Homo sapiens: one gene and its partner. The protein of the gene in region 1 purifies or fractionates together with the protein of each later gene. This does not show direct contact. Each region holds a gene or a part of one and is shown in the gene's direction. Other genes may lie near its edges.

The links. Proteins that work in one complex are often made in the same cells at the same time.
Region 2: the proteins of IL36A (region 1) and GOT1 purify together in Homo sapiens (affinity purification with mass spectrometry; one large-scale study listed by BioGRID and IntAct). This does not show direct contact.

The regions. Positions count from the first base shown.
Region 1 is NC_000002.12:113,004,224-113,008,343, forward strand, and holds IL36A (interleukin-36 alpha), read left to right. Parts: upstream 1-1,235; 5' UTR 1,236-1,648; coding exon 1,649-1,658; intron 1,659-1,750; coding exon 1,751-1,864; intron 1,865-2,374; coding exon 2,375-2,514; intron 2,515-3,608; coding exon 3,609-3,821; downstream 3,822-4,120. UniProt on the Homo sapiens protein: Cytokine that binds to and signals through the IL1RL2/IL-36R receptor which in turn activates NF-kappa-B and MAPK signaling pathways in target cells linked to a pro-inflammatory response.
Region 2 is NC_000010.11:99,399,513-99,403,124, reverse strand, and holds part of GOT1 (aspartate aminotransferase, cytoplasmic), read left to right. Parts: intron 1-402; coding exon 403-545; intron 546-3,612. UniProt on the Homo sapiens protein: Biosynthesis of L-glutamate from L-aspartate or L-cysteine. Important regulator of levels of glutamate, the major excitatory neurotransmitter of the vertebrate central nervous system. Acts as a scavenger of glutamate in brain neuroprotection.

The DNA.
Region 1 (4,120 bases):
TTCAAACTGATGTCTTACCTTTCTTAGTGCCTCAAACTAGATCCTGTTCAAACACCTTATAACAAGTTAGTAGGAGTTTATTTTGGTGCAAAATAATTCAAAATCCATGCATAGTTTTTTTCATAATATGCATTTTCCATGAACTTTTTGATGACCTCTTGTATGAAAGGGGATTTATTAGGGGAATGAACTCATGCAATTTTGGAGGCTGAGAAATCCCATGACAGACCACCTGCAAGCTGGAGACCCTGGGATGCAGGTAACATGCTCAGTTCAAGTCCTAAAGCCTCAGAACTAGGAAGCCACTGGTGTAATTCTCACTTTGGGATAGAAAGCCTGAGAACCCAGGGAGATGCTGATATTAAGTCCTGGAGTCCAAAGTCTGGAGTTATAATGTCCAAAGGCAGGAGAGAATGCCCCAGCTCCAGGAGAGACAGAAAATCACCTTTTCTCTGTCTTTTCCATGCCATCCATGCCCCCGGCCAGTTGGATGGATCCCACCTACGTTGAGGGTAGATGTTCCCCACTAGTACACTGACTTACACACCAATCTTCTTTGGAAACACCCTCATAGACTTACCCCAAACTAATGTATTACCAGTTCTTTAAGTATTCCTTAAACCAGTCAAATTGACACTTAAAATTTACTATCACGCTACCTATACTAGAGATAGTGATCTAGAGTCCATTGAGGTGGCTAGAGTGCTCAGGAGCTGGCTTTGCTACAGTAATACTCCCTTCTTCCATGGAGAAGCAGCATGCACAGTGGCTCTGAGAAGCTGGAGGAGGGTCACTGGAGTGAGTGGGCTTCTGGTCTGAAATTGACCAAGAATATAGTTCCTGTGGACCAGGAGTGATTAGAAGCTACAGAGGTCTTAAGAGACCTATCCCTCCTCAGTCTACCTTGCACTTACTGAGGGCTCCCACTCTTAGGAATAATTCCATCGTTTCATTTTGTGGCATCAGAGATGAGTCATTGACCCGGAAGAAGTCCCGTAATGTTTCTCAACTCAGTATCTGTGACTATATTTCCTGCTCTTAAAAGTTTAGCATGCCCTCATGTTTCAGGTTGCTTGGAGAAGTCTTAACCATGCTGTTCACATAAAGAGTCACTAAATCCTCTGGCATCAGGAACTAGAAAATATCCTGAGTGTTGGGCAGTGCCAGACTTAGTGAGGCAGAACTTCCTTCCTTGCCCATGTGGATAAAAGGCCTGGGCCCTGTTACAGCCTGTCAGAAAACCCAAGTGCAGTAGAAGCCATTGTTCATAATGGTAGGGATACAGGGTCCTTCGTAACAGATTATCAGTGTGGCCTATGCTGGAAAGTCTGGTGACCTCTGATTTTTTTTGCTTCCAGGTCTTTGGCCTTGGCACTCTTTGTCATATTAGAGTTCCTGGGTCTAGGCCTGGGCAGGATTCATAGGTGCAGCTGCTTCTGCTGGAGGTAGACTGCATCCAACAAAGTAAGGGTGCTGGGTGAGTTCTGGGAGTATAGATTCTGACTGGGGTCACTGCTGGGCTGGCCGCCAGTCTTTCATCTGACCCAGGGTTAAACTGTGGCTTGGGACTGACTCAGGTCCTCTCTTGGGGTCGGTCTGCACATAAAAGGACTCCTATCCTTGGCAGTTCTGAAACAACACCACCACAATGGAAAAAGGTAAAGATCCTCGTGGAAGGGCGAAAAATTGACAAGGGGGTGATATTCTGTGCTCTCATTCTTACTAATTTACATTTTGACTTTCTCAACAGCATTGAAAATTGACACACCTCAGCAGGGGAGCATTCAGGATATCAATCATCGGGTGTGGGTTCTTCAGGACCAGACGCTCATAGCAGTCCCGAGGAAGGACCGTATGTCTCCAGGTGAGTAGCCACGGTCTGTGAAAGGCAGCTCCTTTGGCCAGTGCTGTTGTGTGTTTGGTGCTCAGATGTTATTCCACAGTGGGCTTGTTAACCGGGCATATCTACAGAGAGGAGCATCTCACAGACAATAATGAATAGAGGGTGAGCATAAGGTTGTTCTGGGACTATGGTCATGAAGTCAGAGAAGAGAGAGAAGGCTTAAGGGAGACTGAAGGGTCAGCCTATGAAAAACAGTGGAAGACGTATTCTGAGAAACTTCAAGGAGTAAGAGTAGGACAAAAGAGGGTAATCTATGGGAGGACCAGTTTTTGAATCCATGAAAGACTGACTTTTCTAATGGAAAGTGTTCCCCAAACATAGGATGGGTGTCCCGGTTAGGTGGTGGGTGGTGAGGTGACCATTCTATGAGTGCACTGTGAGTGTCAGTTAGCAGATTCCCTTAAAACTCTGGCTCAGAGGTACCACCCTGGAAATGGCAGCTGAACACCACTTTTCACATCGTGTTCCCAGTCACTATTGCCTTAATCTCATGCCGACATGTGGAGACCCTTGAGAAAGACAGAGGGAACCCCATCTACCTGGGCCTGAATGGACTCAATCTCTGCCTGATGTGTGCTAAAGTCGGGGACCAGCCCACACTGCAGCTGAAGGTGAGTGTGGAAGACAGGTCCTGCCATTTATTTGATGGAAACTCAGATTTCAGGATCTTTTAAAAGACAATGTACTTATTATGCTCATGCATTTTTATTTTTGGTTTCCTTGGGGTTGGTATATGTTATGAAAGACTAAGAAAAATTGCAGGGACATTTTGAAACAAACCTACTAAAATGACTTATTATTTTAATTTACAAAAATATTAATAATTTGGCAAGGATGATGTCTAACTTCAATAGAACACACACACAGAGTAAAATCAGCAAGGACATTTTAGCAGTTAATTATCACAAAGTAGACGAACTTATTAAAACATCTTTTTGGCAAAAAATACATTGCAACTTTAAATGAACAAACATAATTCTCTGTAATAAACACTTCAATAATCGCAATTTTCCATTATTAAAAAAAGATAATTATAGCAGGCCTCTGTGTACTACAGGAACTCTCTTGACCCTTTTCAGTAAACAAGCATAAGCAGACACTCAACTTGATGACAAGATATAAAACAGTGTTTTTCAGCCAGGGGTGATATTGCTCCAGGGACATTTGTCAATGTCTGGAGATGTTTTGGTTGTGACAACCTGGGATGGGGGTGTGATACTTGCATTTATCGGGTAGATGACAGGGATGCTACTAAACATCCTATATTATTATACAGGACAGACCCTGAAAACAAAGAATCATCTTGCCTAAAATGTCAATAGTGCTGAAGGTGCAGAAACCTGACAGAAAATAACTGTTTTAATTTGAAATTTACAGTAACTGTTACATAAATATTCTTTAAGTTTCTGTTTCTGAACAACAAATAATGGCCCAATCAATGCTTTGTATTCTCAAAAACTTTCATGTCAACACATTTTTCAGAGCCTCACATTAAAAACCATTAAAATTTGTAGCCTGAGTTTCAACCATAATCTTAAAAGAATTTAATTTATATGATTTTCAATCCCATAATATGAAACAGAGGTCTCCAAGCTGCTTCAATGAGTAGGGAATGCTATCCTTGGACGTGGAATATCAGTGTGTAAAGAATGTGAAACATTCAAACAGTTATGTTTCTTGCTGGTGTCTCCTTCGCACCCTTCAGGAAAAGGATATAATGGATTTGTACAACCAACCCGAGCCTGTGAAGTCCTTTCTCTTCTACCACAGCCAGAGTGGCAGGAACTCCACCTTCGAGTCTGTGGCTTTCCCTGGCTGGTTCATCGCTGTCAGCTCTGAAGGAGGCTGTCCTCTCATCCTTACCCAAGAACTGGGGAAAGCCAACACTACTGACTTTGGGTTAACTATGCTGTTTTAAGGTCAGTTGGGTTTGGAGGATAGTCTCCATGCAGGGAAAATCTTAGTATAATCTTAGCCTGGAATGGGCAGGGAGAATTTGTTATTGGACTTTCCACCTAAGAGTATCTTGCTGCCTCCCAATATATTCATGCAGTGACCTAAGTGCTGGACTGGTCCCTCTCCCTGGGGCCATGTGGAAAATAGTCCAGGGAAATTGAGGGCCTTGCCATGAGCATGTGGCTGAAATATGGCACCATTACAAAAATAATAAGGAAAGCTCTACTTAACATAATTGCTAATAATGCTCCAAGTAAAAAT
Region 2 (3,612 bases), on another chromosome or scaffold:
TTTTTATCTGTAATTTACATACACTTTATCTTATTTTAGAACAGTAATTTTTATATAGTAGCTAAATCTGCAATCTTTATTTAGTAAGTCCTGATGAAACATATTGCCCTATTAATATCTATAGCAGCACCTCGGTGAAGCCTGAGTTGAAATGTGAGTGTATTCTAGCCAGTATACCCAAGACTAGCACTAGACTCACTAGTAAATGCAGTCCTTTCCTTCTGCCCCCTAAGTCTCTCTCTCTGGTATGTTAATCCACCCATCCAGACATCCACATGCCATAATAGGCAGGTTATGATCCCATTGTCAGCTGTCGTTTAAATTAGAGTTTTTAAACCTGTGTGTTTTCGGGTACCATCTTTCCTGTCTGGATTGGTATTTACGTCACTGTCCATGCTTCAGGACAGGTAATGTGAAGACAATGGCTGACCGGATTCTGACCATGAGATCTGAACTCAGGGCACGACTAGAAGCCCTCAAAACCCCTGGGACCTGGAACCACATCACTGATCAAATTGGCATGTTCAGCTTCACTGGGTTGAACCGTAAGTGGCCCCCACCACCTCCAGCCCATGCGTGCATGTAGACACACAACATTCCTTTCAGTCGCTCGCCTTGAGCTGAGCTCACTTTCACAGCCTTTGCCTAATTGGGCAGCCATTGCTTTGGACCAGGACAAGTTAGGTTTTCTTAGGGTGTCCCACCATCTCATAAACTCTCTGGGTCTCAGAAGAGTATTGTGGTCTGCCCTGCTGACCCACAGCCAAGATATTTCCGTGTTTGTGGGCTGGGAAGTGGCTCAGAGCCAGCTGGGAGGTAACAGGATTGGTAGCTGGGAGCCTTAATTTATGAAAGGTTCTTATAAATGCTCAGGTACATTTTGGGTTTGCCTTAATCCTGAATATAATGATTATTCAGGGAACTGATTTCTTGACAGGTCTTTCTTATTTCTAGGTATTATCCTCAAAAAGAGATTACAAAGTTATCTCTGCATTTCATAAACAAGAACCTAGATTGGGCTGGGCACAGTGGCTCACACCTGTAATCCCAACACTTTGGGAGGCTGAGGTGGGCAGATCACGAGATCAGGAGATCAAGACCATCCTGGCTAACATGGTGAAACCCCGTGTCTATTAAAAATACAAAAAAATTAGCCGGGCGTGGTGGCAGGCGCCTGTAGTCCCAGCTACTAGGGAGACTGAGGCAGGAGAATCACTTGAATCCAGGAGGCAGAGCTTGCAGTGAGTCGAGACCGCACCACTGCACTCCAGCCTGGGCGACAGAGCGAGACTCCGTCTCAAAAAAAAAAGAAAAGAACCTAGATTGGTGGTTGGAATTAAAAGCTGATTGAAAATCTAGTAGGTGGTCATGCATGGTCTTGGTCAATTGTCAGTAGGGCACATCTGCCATCTGCAGTCCCATCTGATGACAGAAGAGTCATTTCTTCTTTTTTTTTTTGAGATGGAGTCTTGCTCTGTTGCCCAGGCTGGAGTGCAGTGGTGTGATCTCGACTCACTGCAACCTCCGCCTCCCGGCTTCAGGTTATTCTCCTGCCTCAGCCTCCCGAGTAGCTGAGATTACAGGCGTCATTTCTTTAGTAATTCCCACAGTGCAGATGTGGCGACTCACCTGTGTGTCCCAGTGACTCTAGGGAGGGATGTGTGGCTGGCTTGGTTTGTAGGCAGAACGGCAGAGGCCGTGGGGAGGTATTTAACTGGGGCCATCACAGTGCCAGTGTGAAGTGGGCTCAGAAAAATCCAAAGGAAATAAATATAAATGGCAGTTAATAGAGCTTGTATTGTGGACCCCTCAAAATACTTTGGGGTAAAATGAAGCTACCTAAGAAAGTAAAGAAATAGCTCAGTTAGCTGTAGATGTCCTCTTGACTGAGGAACAGAGAATTAGTTCACTCACAATTATAAAAATATTACATGTAACAGAAATATTAATAGTCTTTAGTAGTAATAGTCTAAAAGCTCACAATATGGGAATGTCTCCCTGTAAAATATCCATATCTTCCCATTATCCACAGGAGGAAATTAGTTTTATTAATATCACGAATTGGAAAAATGATGAGAATAGAACTGTGCTTATAACACAAAAGTTATATTTTTAGCGCTTGGCATCATTTGCCCTTATTAAAAACAGGGGTTTTGTTTTCCTCCCAACTTTTTTTTTCTTTTTGAGACAGAGTCTTGCTCTGTTGCTCAGGCTGGAGTGCAGTGGCACAATCTTGGCTCACTGCAACCTCCACCTCCTGGATTCAAGCGATTCTCCTGCCTCAGCCTCTCAAGTAGCTGGGACTACAGGCATGAGCCACCACACCCAGCTAATTTTTGTATTTTTAGTAGAGACAGGGTTTCACCATGTTGACCAGGCTGGTCTCAAACTCCTGACCTTAAGTGATCTACCTGCCTTGGCCTCCCACAGTGCTGGGATTACAGGCGTGAGCCACTGTGCCTGGCCTTTTTTGTTTGTTTGTTTGTTTCAGACACGGTCTCGCTCTGTCACCCAGGGTGGAGTACAGCGGTGCAATCTCGGGCCACTGCAACTTCTGCCCCCTGGGCTCAGGTGATCATTCCACCTCAGTGTCCAAGTGGCTGGGACCACAGGCGTGAACCACCATGCCCGGCTAATTTTTTGTAGAAACGGGGTCTCACCATATTGCTCAGGCTGGTCTCAAACTCCTGAGCTCAAGTGATCTGCCCGCCTCGGTCTCCCAAGGTGCTGGGATTACAGGCATGAGCCACTGCACCTGGCCAGAAAAGTTTTAAACATACAGAAAAGTTGGAGGAATTGTACAGTGAACCCCTATATATCCGCCACCTAGTTTCTACAATTCTCACATTACAATACTTCCTTTGTTATCTTTTTTCTGTCAGAATGGGGCTTTTAACCTGGAATCCCTGGATGTACGTTTAGGAGAACTGTGAAGCCCCTGAAATGATGTTTAAAAAATTGTATATGTGTATTTTGGCCCTGCTCTAGGGAAAGAGTCCATAACTTTTACTAGCTTTTCAAACTGTGACACTTCCCTTCTCTGAAAAAGTAGAAAGGCCTCATTTTTACTAAAACAAAACCAAAAGCCAGGGTAGGAGTCATTTAATCACTGCCTCAGGGCACAGGCTTTTAGAAAGAGTGGCACACCCAGGGCTGTGTTGGCTTGAGGCTCTATCCCCTTGGGTGACCAATTCACACAGGTAAACCTCTTCTTAAGCTTGCTTTCTTTGTTCACTGGTTTGGAGGGGTCAAGGGAAAACTTACCCTTTGCCCTCTGAAAGTTTGCTGGAAATCAGCTGACAAGAGGCAGATTAATAGGAGAAAAGGCATACAAATTTATTTATTTATTTTTGAGTCAGAGTCTCACTCTGTTGCCCAGGCTGGAGTGCGGCGTCACAATCATGGCTTACTGTAGCCTCAACCTCCCAGGCCCAAGCAATCCACCCACCTCAGCCTTCGTAGTACCTGGGACCACAGGTGTGTGCCACCATGCCCGGCTAATTTTTAAGATTTTTTTGTAGAGACAGGGTCTCCTTATGATGCCCAGGCTGGTCGTCAACTCCTGGGCTCAAGCAATCCTCCCTCCTCAGCCTCCCAAAGTACTTGGATTAC